Linked DNA regions of Homo sapiens: region 2 is linked to region 1. A link means that fine-mapping ties the variant in region 1 to the expression of a gene that starts in the linked region. Tissue or cell type: whole blood. Region 1 holds a variant in brackets; the other region holds the start of a gene. All regions are shown on one strand. Distances are from middle to middle.

Region 1 (8,176 bases):
GAATGTAAGCCAATCAGCTCCTTGCATTGTCTTGGTGCTGTGGTTGGTACAGAGGTGACCACATGACCCAGCTCACCCAATCAGACTGAAGGGAAGGATTTAAATGTCTGGCTTAGGGAGCCGGCCTTCTCCTTGCTAAGGGAGCCGGCCTTCTCCTTGCTAAGGAAGACCAGGATACCTCGTCCCTTAGGTGTTGCTGGCAACCGTCTTGTTACCAAAAGGGTAGTTGCCCTTGAGCTGAAGCCAACCTAAAGGGAGGCAGCAGCGGAGACAAAGTTCCTGGGTCCCTGTGCCATCACTGAACCAGCGAATCAATCCATTCCAAGGCCAAGAATCTCCTGGGACTTCCTGTTGGTAAAATAATAGATTTCTTTCCGCGGGGCACAGTGGCTCATGCCTGTAATCCCAGCATTTTCAGAGGCCGAGGCGGGCGGATCACTTGAGGTCAGGAGTTGGAAATCAGCCTGGCCAACATGGCAAAACCCTGTCTCTACCAAAAATACAAAAATTAGCTGGGTGAGGTGGCACACGTCTGTAGTCCCAACTATTTGGGAGGCTGAGACATGAAAATCTCTTACACCCAGGAGGTGGAGGTTGCAGTGAGCCAAGATCCACCACTGCACTCCAGCCTGGGCAACAGAGTGAGACTCCATCTCAAAAAATAATAATAAAAATAATAAATAGGCTGGGCACACTGGCTCACGCCTGTAATCCCAGAACTTTGGGAGGCCGAGGCGGCAGATCACGAGGTCAGGAGTTCGAGACCAGCCTGACCAACATGATGAAACCCCGTCTCTACTAAAAAATACAAAAATTAGCTGGGTGTGGTGGTGTGCGCCTGTAATCCCAACTACTCAGGAGGCTGAAGCAGGAGAATCTCTTGAACCCAGGAGGCAGAGGTTGCAGTCAGCCGAGATCGCACCACTGCACTCCAGCCTGGGCTGGAACAAGACTCCATTTAAAAAAAGAAATCAATTATTAGCCGGGCATGGTGGTGCGCACCTGTAATCCCAGCTACTCGGGAGGCTGAGGCAGGAGAATTGCTTGAACCCAGGAGGCGGAGGTTGCAGTGAGCTGAGATCATGCCAGTGCACTCCAGCCTGGGCGACAAGAGTGAAACTCCATCATAAATTAATTAAAAATAAATTTTATGTTTAAGCCAATTGAGTCGAGTGTTCACACGTAATCACCTTGCACAAACTCACATTTAATTTATTGAGCACTTGGCCCTGTGCAGTGGCTCACGCCTCTAATCCCAGCACTTTGGGAGGCCAAGGCAGGTGAATCACTTGAACTGAAGAGGTCGAGACCAACCTGGGCAACATGGTGAAACCCCATCTCTACAAAAAATACAAAAATTAGCTGGGCATGGTGGCGCACATCCATAGTCTCAGCTACTTGTGGGGCTGAGGTAGGCAGATTGCTTGTGCTGGGAGGTTGAGGCTGTAGTGAGCCGAGATCATGCCACTGCACTCCAGCCTGGGTGATGGGAGTGAGACCCTGCCTCAAAAAAAAAAAAAATAAATAAAAATAAAAAATTGAGTGCTTAACGTCTGTCAGGCACTATTCTGAGAGCTTTATGTGCATAGATTAACACTCACTGCACTGCAGCCTGGGTGACAGAGTGAGACTGTCTCAAAATAAGCTGTATAGCTGGGTGCAGTGACTCATGCCTGTAATCCCAGCATTTTGGGAGGTCAAGGCGGGTGGATCACCTGAGGTCCGGAGTTCAAGACCAGACTGACCCACATGGAGAAACCCCATCTGTATTAAAAATACAAAATTAGCAGGGCGTGATGGCACATGCCTGTAATCCCAGCTACTAGAGAGAATGATGTAGAATTACTTGAACCTAGGAGGCGGAGATTGTGGTGAGCTATCATGCCACTGCATTCCAGCCTGGGCAACAAAAGCGAAACTCCATCTCAAAAAAAAAAAAAAAGGGCCGGGTGCGGTGGCTCACGCCTGTAATCCTGTGTCCAGAATTGGTGGGTTCTTGGTCTCACTGACTTCAAGAATAAAACCACGGACCCTCGCGGTGAGTGTTACAGTTCTCAAAGGCGGCGTGTCTGGAGTTTGTTCCTTTTGATGTTCAGATGTGTTCGGAGTTTCTTCCTTCTGGTGGGTGCACGGTCTCACTGGCTCAGGAGTGAAGCTGCAGACCTTCACGGTGAGTGTTACAGCTCTTAGGGCTCTTAAGGTGGTGCATCTGGAGTTGTTCTTTCCTCCCGGTGGGTTTGGGATCTCGCTGGCTTCAGCAGTGAAGTCACAGACCTTCATGGTGAGTGTTACAACTCATAAAGGCAGTGTGGACCCAAAGAGTGAGCAGTAGCAAGATTTATTGCAAAGAGTGAAAAAACAAAGTCTCCACAGTGTGGAAGGGAACTCCAGCGGGTTACTACTGCTACCTCAGGCAGCCTGCATTTATTCTTACCTGGCCCCACCCACATCCTGCTGATTGGTCCATTTTACAGAGAGCCGATTGGTCCATTTTACAGAGAGCTGATTGGTGCGTTTACAATCCCTGAGCTAGACACAAAAGTTCTCCATGTCCCAGCTATATTAGCTAGATATAAAGTGTCAACACAAAGGTTCTCCAAGTCCCCACCAGAGTAGCTAGATACAGAGTGTCCATTGGTGCATTCACAAACCCTGAGCTAGACACACGGTTCTGATTGGTGTGTTTACAAACCTTGAGCTAGATACAGAGTGTCCATTGGTGTATTTACAATCCCTTAGCTAGACATAAATGTTCTCCAAGTCCCCACCAGACTCAGGAGCCCAGCGGGCTTCACCCAGTGGATCCTGTACCAGGGCCACAGGTGGAGCTGCCTGCCGGTCCCGTGCCGTGTGCCCACACTCCTCAGCCCTCCGGTGGTCGATGGGACTGGGCGCTGTGGAGCAGGGGGCGGAGCTCGTCAGGGAGGCTCGGGCCGCACAGGAGCCCACGGGGGTCGGGGGAGGCTCAGGCATGGTGGGCTGCAGGTCCCGAGCCCTGCGGCGTGGGGAGGCAGCTAAGGCCCAGCGAGAAGTCGAGCACAGCAGCTGCTGGCCCAGGTGCTAAGCCCCTCATTGCCCAGGGCCGGTGGGGCCGGCCGGAGGCTCCCAGTGCGGGGCCCGCCGAGCCCACGCCCACCCGGAACTCGCGCTGGCCGCAAGCACTGCACGCAGCCCGGGTTCCCACCCGCGCCTCTCCCTCCACACCTCCCCGCAAGCTGAGGGAGCCGGCTCTGGGCTTGGCCAGCCCAGAAAGGGGCTCCCACAGTACAGCGGCGGGTTGAAGGGCTCCTCAAGCATGGCCAGAGTGGGCGTCAAGGCCGAGGAGGCGCCAAGAGCCAGTGAGGGCTGGGAGGGCTGCCAGCACACTGTCACCTCTCAATCCCAGCACTTTGGGAGGCCGAGGCGGGTGGATCACCTGAGGTCAGGAGTTCAAGACCAGCCTGATCAACATGGAGAAACCCTGTCTCTACTAAAAATACAAAATTAGCCAGGCATGGTGGCCGGTGCCTATAATCCCAGCTACTCGGGAGGCTGAGGCAGGAGAATCGCTTGAACGTGGGAGGCGGAGGTTGTGGTGAGCTGATATGGCGCCATTGCACTCCAGCCTGGGCAACAAGAGCAAAACTCCGTCTCAAAAAAAAAGAGTCTAGCAAACCTTTCCAGAGACTTCTCTTGGGCCAGCCTTCCCCATGGACTCTTGGCAGGTGGCTTCTTTCTTCAGGCTCTGAGATTTCTCTACATTCATCCTTCCC[G/A]CTGCCTTTCAGGTCTCAAGCCTTCTGCCCTCCTGCCCCATTTCCTTACCCAGAGCCCTCTCTCCTGTCCTCCAGGCCACGGCCAGGAAGAGGGCAGTGCCTTTCGCACCCAAGAAAGTCATCAAAGTATTTGGCCATGCAGAACCTTCATCTCTCCAGCCAAATGCTATGGCCTGGTTTTGTGTGTTTGTTTGTTTTCTGAGACGGAGTGTCGCTCTGTCCCCCAGGCTGGAGCACAGTGGTGCTATCTCCGCTCACCGCAACCTCTGACTCCCTGGTTCAAGTGATTCTCCTACCTCAGCCTCCCGAGTAGCTGGGATTACAGGCACGCGCCACCACGCCCAGATAATTTTTGTATTTTTAGTAGAGGTGGGGTTTCACCAGGTTGGCCAGGCTGGTCTCAATCTCCTGACCTCATGATCCACCTGCCTTGGGCCTCCCAAAGTGCTGGGATTACAGGCGTGAGCCGCCGCGCCCGGCCTGGCTTGGTTTTTAAACTCACATGTGTTTCCTCCCTGGGAGTCTGTGAGGTCCCTGAAGCTCCATGGTGGGTGGATTCTGGCCTGTGGCTCCAGGGCCCGGCCTTATTCCAGTGAGTGTCCAAGGGAGGGAGGATGGAGTTGGCGACCCCTTGCCCTTCCTGTCCTGGTCCCACCTCCCAATGAGTCAGCTTGGAGCCAGGCCTCTTGGCCTTTCCTGTTCTCCTCTCTGGCTCCGGAACAACAGCCGGATGTGAGCTGCGCCCAGGCTGTTTTGGGACTTGGCGGACTGGCAGGTGTTGGCTGACTGTCTCCTGGAGGCCAGGCCCATGACTCGGTTCCCCACATCCCACAGCCGGCCCCTGCTCTCGCCCAGAGGATGGGAGAACCCCATCCCAAGAGATGAGCCATGGATACCAGTGGATGTGTGGGTACTCAGGGTACCCCAACTCCTGAATAGAGGGGACAGGGTCAGAGAAGGCCAGAGGATGAACCCTGAAGCCAGAGGTCTTGGGTTAGAATCCTAGGCATGTTACTTTAACTCTGCCTCAACTGCCTCATCTGTAAAATAACGATGGGGATAATAATAGTCATTCTCTACAAGATTGCTGAAGAGTAAGGCCGGGGGTGGTGGCTCACGCCTGTAATCTCAGCACTTTGGGAGGTCAAGGCGGGCGGATCACCTGAGGTCGGGAGTTTGAGACCAGCCTGACCAACATGGAAAAACCCCGTCTCTACTAAAAATACAAAATTAGCCAGGCGTGGAGGCACATGCCTGTAATCCCAGCTACTCGGGAGGCTAAGGCAGAAGAATTGCTTGAAGCCAGGAGGAGGAGGTTGCAGTGAGCCGAGATTGTGCCATTGCACTCCAGCCTGGGCAACAAGAGCGAAACTCCGTCTCAAAAAAAAAAGATTGCCAAAGAATAAATGCATTTATATCTGTAAAGCACGCAAAGGAGTGCCTAGCACATGAGAAGCACTAAGTTCATGTTTGTTACATGAAAAACATAAATTCAATAAACATTTGCTAAGGGCCCACCATGTGCAGGCCCAGGTCAGGTGCTGGGGACACAGTGAACAAGGTGGACACAGCAGCTGCCCCAAGAAAGGGCATCGGGCATCTCCCGCAGGGGGACCAATTCAGTACATGAAGCGGAGCCTGGGAATCTGTTAGGGCATGGCGCTTACGGTGAAGCTGAAATTTCCATGAACAAGGCTGGGTGCAGTGGCTCATGCCTGTCATCCTCATGCTTTGGAAGGCTGAGGTGGAAGTATCCTTGAGGCAGGAATATCCTTGAGGCCAAGAGTTCAAGACCAGCCTGGGCAACATGGTGAGACCCCTATCTCTACCAAGAAAAATTAAAATCAGCTGGGTGTGGTGGTACATGCCTGTAGTCCTAGCCACTCAGGAGATTGAGGCGGAAAGATTCCTTGAGCCCAGGAGCTATGATTGCACCACTGCATTCCATCCTGGTGACAGAGCCCAACCCTGTCTCTATTTTAAAAAAAGTTCCGGCCAGGCACGGTGGCTCACGCCTGTAATCCCAGCACTTTAGGAAGTCGAGGTAGGCAGATCACTTGAGGTGAGGAGTTCAAGACCAGCCTGGCCAACATGCTGAAACCCCATCTCTGCTAAAAATACAAAAAGTAGCCAGGTGTGGTGGCGCACACCTGTAATCTCAGCTACTTGGGAGGCTGAGGCATGAGAATCGCTTGAACCTGGGAAGCGGAGGTTACAGTGAGCTGAGATCATGCCACTGCACTCCAGCCTGGGCAACAGAGTGAAACTCCGTCTCAAGAAGAAAAAAAAAAATTCCCTGAACAAATAGGGAAACTGACGCCTTGGGGAGGGGCAGGGAGCTGCTTGGGATCACTAAAAATTGGGGATCGCTTTTTTGTGAGGGGCACATAGCTGCTATTGTATTATTGTTTTTTGATTGTTCCCAATTTACCAGGGAGGAACTGAGCCAAGAAGTTAAGTAACTTAGTTGAGATCACATGACTAGGAAATGGTAGAGCCAAGATTGAACCCCAGCCAGCCTGGCTAACCAAACAGTAGCATGAGGCTGATCATTAACTGTCTTTTACTGAATATCCACAACATACTTGCAAAATACATCTTCTTCCTCACACCACCCGATGAAGGAGGTACCATTAAGGTCCGCATTTCACAGATGAAGGAACTGAGCCCCAGGGAGGTTGTGTGATTTACCCAGGGTCTCACTTCTAGGCAGTGGCAGAGTTGAGGTTTCTCGACACAGGGTTGTCCTGCTGCCCAAGACCTCTTAATTCCCAGCTGGCTTTCCCTGGCCAGGCTAGAGCCAGTGCCATCCCCCATCCATCCCATCCCTTCTAGGGTGTACGTGCAGAGAATGCAGAAGTCATTGAACTACGGTCTGGACAAATGGGCATTATGAGCAGGGTCCTTCTGCCAAGCAGCCACAGCCAAGTGGATGCTGTGCTAGACTAGCCACCTCCCCCCTCCCTCCAGCTTGACCCTAAAGTCCAGGATTCTTTGGAAAGATTAGACTCCACTAGGCTGAGAACACCGCGGTGCCAACAGCAAGGGCTTCAGCTCTACTGTACCCTCCACACACATTATGTGAAGGTGAAATTTCACAAGTACCCCAAGAAGAAGGTTCTAGTACTATCCTCATTTTTCAAGAGGCAGGACAGTAGAGGGGTAAGAGCATTGACTTGGAGCAGAGGCTGCCTGGGTTCCATCCCCTACCCGGCCACTAGGTCTGTCCAAGGCTCTGTCCTAGTCATGGCCTTGCTTACTTAACCTCTCTGGACCTCAGTCTCTTTATCACTGGGAAGAGGACGAGACTGGTACCTACACCTCATAGGGAGGATAAAAGAACTAGAAGTATTAGGATATGGGCACAGCACATAATGAGCACCATGTGTTTGCCATTTTATGGAAACTGAAGCTCAAGAAAGTTATATGACTTGGCCTACGTCACATGAGTACCACATGGAAGAGCCAGGACTTGAACTCAAGTCTGTCCAACTCCAAAGCAGCCCTCTCCTCACATACTCAGGGCATTGAGCTCCTTGATGGATGAGTAGAATTTTTAGATTGAAGGAAGGTGGACAATTCAGGTTGTTCACAGAGATGGGAATGGGCTGCATAGCAACTAGTAGTAGTTCCAGGGTGAGTGCCACATCCCCACAGCTCTAACATCCAGTCTGATGGATATTCAAGTCACTGGACACAGGATTCCGAGCGCCTACTCTGTGCCAGGTCAGGTACTAGGTATTGAGAAAGGAGAAAGAAAGCACACACAGTTCATGAAGCTCAACAATCCAGTGGGGGAGATGGATGGGCAAGTGAATCACTATGATACAGTGAAATAATGGCTCTATAGTGCTGAAGACAGGTGCAAATAGTAAATTCTCCCTGGGAAGCAGTTGAGGAAGGCTCCATGGAGGAACTGGCATTTGAACTGGACCTTTAAGAACTGAGCAAGGCCTGGCACGGTGGCTCACGCCTGTAATCCTAGCGCTTTGGGAGGCCGAGGCGAGTGGATCACCTGAGTGATTCAAGTTTGAGACCACCCTCACCAGCATGGTGAAACCCCATCTCTACCAAAAATACAAAAATTAGCCGGGCATGGTGGTGCATGCCTGTAGTCCCAGCTACTTGGGAGGCTGAGGCAGGAAAATCACTTGAACCCGGGAAGCGGAGGTTGTAGTGAGCTGAGATTGCGCCACTGCACTCCAACCTGGGCGACAGAGCAAGACTCTGTCTCAAAAAAAAAAAAGCTGAGCAAGTTCAAAACAGGAAAAGTGAATCCACCCCAGACAGAGGGCCTAGCAGGAGCAAGTGCAGAGAATCACAAGGCACATGGGGCATTCAGGGGAGTGGAGAGTTCCATATGCCCCAGGCAGGGCCGATGAGACTGCAGAAGTGGTTCAAGGTCAGAGTAGGAGGGCCTTTCT
Region 2 (8,176 bases), 25 kb before region 1:
GCTGTGAGTTCAGTCATACTATTTGAGAAGGTGCTCATCTCTCTCTCTTAAATGTGAAGCTCAGTGCTAGCTAGACAGGTAGGCTCAAAGCCCCATTACATCTCTTGGCCTTTCCCCTAGCGCCACCACCAAATTTCTAATTTCCATACATGCTATGTGCTTCAACTGTAAATAGTTTTCTTTTACAAACTCAGATACCTCTTGGCAGGTTAACACTGTTCAACATACCACTCTGGACAACCACAGCCTCTGCACCCTCTCTACTTTCTTTTTTTTTTTTTTAATTTTTATTTTTTGAGATGGAGTCTTGCTCTGTCACCCAGGCTGGGGTGCAGTGGCACTATCTCGGCTCACTGCAACCACCGCCTCCCAGGTTCAAGCAATTCTCCTGCCTCAGTCTCCCGAGTAGCTGGGATTACAGCCATGCACCACTATGCGTGGCTAATTTTTGTATTTTTAGTAGAAATGCGGTTTCGCCATGTTGCCCAGGCTGGTCTCAACATCAAGTGATCCACCCCCCTCCGCCTCCCAAAAGGCTGGGATTACAGGAGTGTGCCACCACACCTGGTCCACTGCTTTCAAAATAACTATATTTACAAGGGTATTTCCCCCATTTGCATTTCCCACACGTAGGTTTTGAGAAGAGATCAAGAATGCCCTTTACCACATTTTACCTGTCCTTTTTTCCCCTTTCAAACAAACTGGTCTAGGGGCCAAGCACAGAGGCTCAAGCCTGTAATCCCAGCACTTTGGGAGGCCAAGGCAGGCAGATCACTTAAGGTCAGGAGTTTGAGACCAGCCTGGCCAACATGGTAAAACCCAGTCTCTTCTAAAATACAAAAATCAGCCAGGCGTAGTGGTGCATGCGCTCCTCGGAAGGCAAAGGCAGAAGAATCACTTCAACCTGGGAGGCAGAGGGTGCAGTGAGCCGAGATCGCGCCACTGCACTCCAGCAGCCAGGGTGACAGAGCGAGACACCATCTCATTAAAAAAAAAAAAAAAAAAAAAAACAAAAAACCTGATCTGTATCAGTGCAAAGTTTGCCTATGTTGAATCACTGGGTAGCAGAAAACATTTCTTATTTCACAAATGAGACAAACAAGGCTTAAAGAGTGAAAACAAACTGCCTAGGGTCACCCAACCAAGGAGTAAAGAACTGTGACTTGAACCCTGATTCTCTGCCACCAAGCCCAATGAGAAAGGCTTACAACTAGTGGTAGGAAGGATGATTTTCAGTGGTTCTCAACACAAATATGAAAAACAGAAAGGGGATGCAAGTGACTCAAGTTTGGAAAACTGCACACGCCCCTCTGCTATTCTAACTGAAAGATGAAATTAATAGTAAGCAGGGCATTAATCACTGATCTCTTCCTAATTCAGATACTTAATTTTTCTTGTCTTCTTTGATTAGCTCCTCCAATAGAATAATAGAATACTGAATAGAGCCATAACTGATAATAGCTTTATCTTTTTTTTTTTTTTTTTGAGACGAAGTCTCACTCTGTCGCCCAGGCTGGAGTGCAGTGACTTGATCTTGGCTCACTCCAACCTTTGCCTCCCCGGTTCAAGCGATTCTCATGCCTCAGCCTCCCGAATAGCTGGGCCCACCACCATGCCTGGCTAATTTTTCTATTTTTAGTAGAGACAGGGTTTCACCATGTTGGCCAGGCTGGTCTCGAACTCCTGGCCTCAAGTGATCTCCCCATCTCGGCATCCCAAAATGCTACAGGTGTGAGTCACCTCACCCGGCCCGATAGTAGCTTATTCTAAGTTTAATACTGTTCTAAAGTTTCACCGTTAAGTATCATGTTTTACAGATTATTCATGGATGCACTTTTTTTGAGTTTATGGAAATTCCTTCCTATTCCTCACTCAGTAAAAATTTTTTTTAACTCATCTCTGGCCCACTTGTTTCCCTTCTCCATGCTGTTTTCCACCCACCACCCTTCCTTTCTTTCTTTTTTTTTTTTTTTTTTGAGATGGAGTCTTACTCTGTTGCCCAGGCTGGAGTACAGTGGCGCAATCTCCGCACACCACAACCTCTGCCTCCCGGGTTCAAGCAATTCTCCTGCCTCAGCCTCCCGAGTAGCTGGGACTACAGGCACGCGCCACCACGCCCAGCTAATTTTTGTATTTTTAGTAGAGATGGGGTTTCACCATGTTGGCCAGGATGGTCTCGATCTCCTGACCTCGTGATCTGCCCACCTCAGCCTCCCAAAGTGCTGGGATTACAGGCGTGAGCCACCGCGCCCGGCCTCCTTCCTTTCTTGTATTTCAGGTTCCTTCCTACATTCTACGCATCTCAAAGTACTATATCTGCCACTCAAAGTAACCGAAACGCTTTGATATTTTGGGGGTTCTATACCTGTCTGCTGTTTCAGTTCCCTGGACCAAAAAAAAAAAAAAAAAAAAAATCGAAAATTGACAATTGAAAGAAAATCCTAAGGCAAACACTGTTCCAGTCATTACTGAAGACTGCAGAGGTAAATGCAGATTATTTCTTCTCTCCATCTCTTTTGTTTGAGACAGGGTCTTGCTCTGTCGCCCAGGCTGGAATGCAGTGGTGCGACGTGGCTCACTGCAGCCTCGACCTCCCGGGCTCAAGCAGTTCTCCCACCGCAGCCTCCAGAGTAGTACAGGCGCGTAACATCGCTCCCAGCTAATTTTTGAATTTTTTTGTAGAGACAGGGTTTCGCCATCTTGTTCAGGCTGGACTCAAGTAATCCTCCCACCTCGGCCTCCGAAAGTGCTGCGATTACAGGCATGAGCCACCGCGCCCAGCCCTTCTCTATCTCTTAAACACATCCTGAAATGTCCTTTCTTTAAAGTAAAAACTCGGGGAAAAAAAAGAACCCAATAGTTCTAGATGACCATTTACTTTCCGGTATGTTGCCTAGCTCTGAATGAGCCTGGCTTTTTAAGTGGCTGGAAGAAGCTCAAAGTGTTTTTTTTAAGTTTTGAGGGAAGGAGCTGGATCCAGATGTTTATAACTTCGACTCTCTCCTTTGCTAAAATAAAAAGTATTAAAGAGAAAAGCAAAGGAAGAGGGGTAGTATGTGTAAGCAAATAAATTCCACACATGAAAGCTGAAGACACAAGGGAAAACCAACCCTTTAAAGCCCAAGCAAGTTAAGAATTCTCTCCCTCAATTTCTTTCAAAACAAAAGGGCACACACAATCCTTCCCGAAGCAGCAACGCCGGGGGGAGAAGCCAAAATGTTGCATCATACAGAACACTCCGCGCTTGAGAAACGAGAAAGCCAGTAAATGCCCAAGACAGAAAAACACAAGTTGGGAATCTCGGTCTTTTCCGAAGGTCCAAGAGCACCTGCTCTTTGGTAAATTTGTTTAAGATTGCATCGAAAATTAAAGTTTCCGTTTCAGACCAGTGGGGAGCAAATGCTTTTTCAAAAACGCGTTCAAAGAAGTTCGTTTGAAAGCTCATCGGGCGGCGGGCCGCAGTTCGGGCTCCGGGCGGCGGACCGGAGCGCTGGGGAGCGGGTGGGGCCGGGCCCCGGCGCCCGGGCGGGGGGTGGTGACAGGACCCGCGCGCGCCCGGCGCTGGGGCCCCGGGGCAGGCAAGTCCCGCCCGTGGGCTCTTCCCGACCCACCCGGGCGCGGGACGCTGGTCTGGCGTCCGCCGATGCCTACGCGCTGGAGACGGTGGCCGCCGCCCGGGTCCCCAACCCGGACCCCTCGACGGGCCCTCGGAGGCGGGAAGGCGCGGGCGGCCCCCAGACAATGGGCCGGGGGCGCGGGTGCCCGCAGCGGGACGGGTGCTGGCGCCGAGCGGGGGCGCCTCAGGAGAGCCCCGGGACGCCGCTCCCCGCAGCCGGGAGGGAGCCGGGGGATCTGCCGGGCGGGACCGCGAGGCGAGCGCTCACCTTGACGAAGAGCTCGATGAGGGGCTCTTTGTCCTCCTCCTTCAGCCCATTCAGCGGCATCGACAACGCCATGGCCGGCTCGGCTGCGCTCCGCGAACGGCGAGGGCTGCTGCTGCTGCTGCTGCTTCTGCTCCGGGACTGCTCCGGCTGCCGGTTCCCGCCGTGCTGCTCGCTGGACTGTCCGGCGTCGAGCTGGCCACGGCTTCAGCTCCTCAGCACCGCCCCACGCCCCCCGCGCCACTCTGAGCCAGCCGCAGCCCGAGCCGCTTCAAACGGCTGGGAGGGGCGCCGGGGGCGGGGCCTCGGGCTGTAGGCAGGGCCAAGGCGCGGCGCCTCGGGACTCTCCGGGGAAAATAAGGCGGCAGGAGCACGGGGGCGTGGCCTCGAGCGGGGAAGGCGGAGGGACCGCTCCGGAGCCGAAGAAAGGACCTCTGCGGCGCCCCACAGCTGGTAGGGGGCGTGGCCTTGGTGGGCGGTACAAAGCTCAGGCTCTGGCGGGCGGGACCCGGGTACGCCTCTCTAGGGGACTGGTGCGGGGGGGAAAGGAGGGGAGGAATTCCCCAGGGGCCCGAGCCTGACACTGCCTCCCGCCGCAGCGCCTGCGCGTCCTCCGCAGCTGCTGCTGTTGCTGTGCCAGGTGACCTCATGCCTCGGCCGCCCTGGGGAAGCTAGGAGGCGCCTCCTACCCACTCCCCCGCTGCAGCACCCCAGGACTCATCGCCCTTTCCCGCAGCGGCTACCTCCCCAAGTCCCTCTATTACGCGGAGTTGCCTTTTCCAAGACAACTTACTGGAAAGTTTTCATCGCCTGGGGAACACCTTTTTCTTCTGCCTCTGACTTCGTTTTTCCCTTTGACGCTCCTGATCGTTTCGATCTTGGCAGCCAGCATATTCACAAATATATATATATATATATATATTTTTTTTTTTTTTTTTTTTGAGACGGAGTCTGGCTCTATCGCCTAGGCTGGAGTGCAGTGGCGCGATCTCGGCTCACTGCAAACTCTGCCCCGGGTTCACGCCATTCTCCTGCCTCAGCCTCCCAAGTAGCTGGGACTACAGGCACCCGCCACCGCGCCCGGCTAATTTTTGTATTTTTAGTAGAGACGGGGTTTCACCGTGTTAGTCAGGATGGTCTCGATCTCCTGACCTCGTGATCCGCCCGCCTCGGCCTCCCAAAGTGCTGGGATTACAGGCGTGAGCCACCGCGCCGGGCGCATATTCACAAATATTTATGAAACCTTACTGTGTTTCAGGCTCTGAGCTAGCCCTTGGAGAGTAACAACTCCCAAAGCTCAAGATCTTGAACTGCAATCTCAGTGCCTGCAGGCCACTAAGGACTTCCAAGTCGTTGTCCATCTTGTTCCCCACTGCCCACACCCATTTCTTCCCCCCGGCTCACCTGTCAAATTTGAGTGTGCATCAGAATCACCTAGGTGCTACACGCAGCCCCGCTTTTTGTGTTTCCCAGATCCTCTGGGAAAAAGAGAAATCCACATCTTAGCAAGCACCAGGACAATTCTGAAGTAGGTGGTCCGCAAACCAGTTAAACTGCCCTGGGATTTAAGCCCCCGAGGGCAAGAGCTGTGCTTGCCTTGAGATTGTAGGCACCTGGTCCTAGTTTGCTGCTGTTGAGTGCCTGGGGCAAGTTTCACCTCCTCTGGAAACAATTACTTGTGCCCTTTTCTGACTTTCCATAATACTTGACTCACAGCTACTCCTCCCAACTTCCCAGGTTGGGATAAATAGTGAGTTCCAGGAGGCCCAGACATGGGAGGTTTGTCTCCATATCCTCGGTGCCTAGCACATACCAGAATGTTTGAACAAATTGTACGTAGGCATGAAAATACAGTGAAACTTGCAATTTCTTCCTCTGCCAGCCCAAAGTAAGTTGCTCAAATTTTCTCACAGAGGCTCTGTGAAAGAGCCAGTGTATCCCAGTGGTCAGGAACACGTGCTCTGTAGTCTGACTGTTTAAGTTCAAATCTGACAAGGCAGTGTCCTTAAAACCCCTAAGCCTCAGTTTCATTATCTAGAAGTGGGTGGGGCTAATTACTGATTCTTGCCTTACCATATGTGCTGCTCCGTCAGTATGGCTGTTAACTGCATTGAGACTTATTCTGTCCCTACCACCCCTGCAGGCTAGAATGTGGCATCATATTCTACTCTCTCTATGCCCGGCTAGTTCGTTGAAAATAAATAAATAAATTCCAGGAGGCTCCCCTTAGATGGGGGCTTGAACCATGAAAATCCTGAAGTGACTGACTAGACTCTGGACTGAACCGTGTTAATTTTTCATAGAATCATGAACTGAAGCAAAGTTTCCTTCCAGAATCCACCCTCTCTGCCCTACCAAAAAGGAACCAAATGGTGAATCAGTTCAAAGCAGATCTAAGCCAAAAAACAATTCAGCAGAAACTCAATGTACCTGAGAATTGATCAAATTGAGGCCGGGCACAGTGGCTCATGCCTGTAATCCCAACACGTTGGGAGACCGAGGCGAGTGGATCACCTGAGGTCAGGAGTTCGAGACCAGCCTGGCCAGCATGGCGAAACCCCATCTTTACTAAAAATACAAAAATTAGCCGGGTGTGGTGGCACATGCCTGTAATCCTAGCTACTCGGGAGGCTGAGGCAGGAGAATCGCTTGAACCGGGGAGGCAAAGGTGGCTGTGAGCCGAGATCACGCCACTGTACTCCAGCCTGGGCGACAGAGCGAAATCCATCTCAAAAAAAAAGAATTTGAGTTAGAGGCAGCAAATATTCCCGGTGGTGACTTGCCCTTCACAGGCTCCAACTGGCCTCACAGCACCAGGGTATGGAAGGAGGAACAGACCAGGGCCCTTTAGGCTTCATTGACTAAACAGAGATCTTAGCTAGGAGGAAGCCAGGGGCATTCTCCACAGAGCCCTGAGGTGGTGATGATCTCCTGGGCTCCTCCTACCCAACAGGAAGCCCCCCAGGAAGAGGCTCAGACCCAGAGCCTGTGCTTAGACGTAGTCTCAGTCACACCTACAGTTTCCCAAGTTCCGCCCTCATATGGCTCCCATGGATGGGCAGTCAGTCCTGGGAGTGGGTGAAAGGGAAAGAGGATGTTTATGCAGGGGAGGCCCCCTAACCACATAGCAGTCAAGTCTCCTCTTCGAATTTTGAATTGCATGCCTGCTTTACATTCTTTACTCAGGCTTGTTTTTATAGCACACAGAAATCTTTAAGATGGGTGGAGACATGTTGTCTCCTCCCACACACACCCCTCTGACCTCATCTCCTACCATTCTCCCCTGTGCTCTCCACCCCAGCTTCACTGGCCTCCTTTCTAGTCCTTGGATATGCGAAGCACACTGTGGCCTCAGGGCCTTTGCATTTGCTCTTCCCCCTCTCTGGAACATTCTTCCCCCAGAATTTCTGCAACTCCCACTCCCTTACTTCCTTTGGCTCTTTGCTCAAATGTCATCTTCTCAGAGCGCTCTCCCCAAATACCACCCTATGCAACGTTGCAAGTTGCTATCTTTCACTCCACCCTCCACTTTATCTCTCTTCATAACACTTACAACCCTCTGATACATATCTACCTATTTATCTGCTTATTGTCTGTCTTCTCCCACTAGAACATAAATGCCATAAGGGCAGGGATTTTTTGTTTGGTTTTGTTTATGGCTATATTCCTGGCTCAGAGGACAGCTCATGGTACACAATAAAAATTTATGGAGTGGGCCGGGCGCAGTGGCTCACGCCTATAATCCCAGGATTTTGGGAGGCCAAGGCGGATGGATCACCTGAGGTCGGGAGTTCGAGACCAGCCTGACCAACATGGAGAAACCCCGTCTCCACTAAAAATACAAAAAATTAGCCAGGCATGGTGGTGCATGCCTGCAATCCCAGCTACTTGGGAGGCTGAGGCAGGAGAATCGCTTGAACCTGGGAGGCAGAGGTTGCAGTAAGCCGAGATTGCGCCATTGCACTCCAGCCTGGACAACAAGAGCGAAACTCTGTCTCAAAAAAAAAAAAAAATAGCTTATGGAGTGAGTGACTGTACCATGTTTATCCTATGGTTTCATGTACCCCTGACATGACATTTGGATTGTCACGCTCTTCCAGTCTGGGAAGCCAGGTGGTTTGTGTTTATGACTGCCCCTACACAGGGGGTCAGGTTTTCCTCCAGTAAGCCTCCCTTGATGACACTTTCCTCCTCCCACTTCTAACTCTGTGGTGCTGCTCGCTGACTGTCTCAGCCCAAAGTTCTGCAATTTCAGCAGCAGAATGAGCTGCTATGCACATGGACTCTGGGGCCAG

The links. PIP is the estimated chance that this variant, and not a neighbour inherited with it, causes the effect.
Region 2: CLIC4 starts here. The variant in region 1 is fine-mapped to the expression of CLIC4 in whole blood (INTERVAL, PIP 0.92).

Annotation. Positions count from the first base shown.
Region 1 is chr1:24,716,545-24,724,720 of GRCh38, reverse strand. No RefSeq gene overlaps it. Among named protein-coding and RNA genes, the nearest start is that of CLIC4, 25 kb to the left of the region's middle. RefSeq lists enhancers at 1-601, 4,309-4,603. The variant G/A (reference allele first, on the strand shown) is at 3,753.
Region 2 is chr1:24,741,334-24,749,509 of GRCh38, reverse strand. It overlaps CLIC4 (chloride intracellular channel 4), which reads right to left and starts at 4,063. Exons shown (of 6, transcript NM_013943.3): 1 at 3,885-4,063. The coding sequence starts at 3,956. RefSeq lists silencers at 1-30, 3,492-3,651, 3,752-4,461 and enhancers at 3,543-4,148, 4,149-4,754, 5,967-6,572.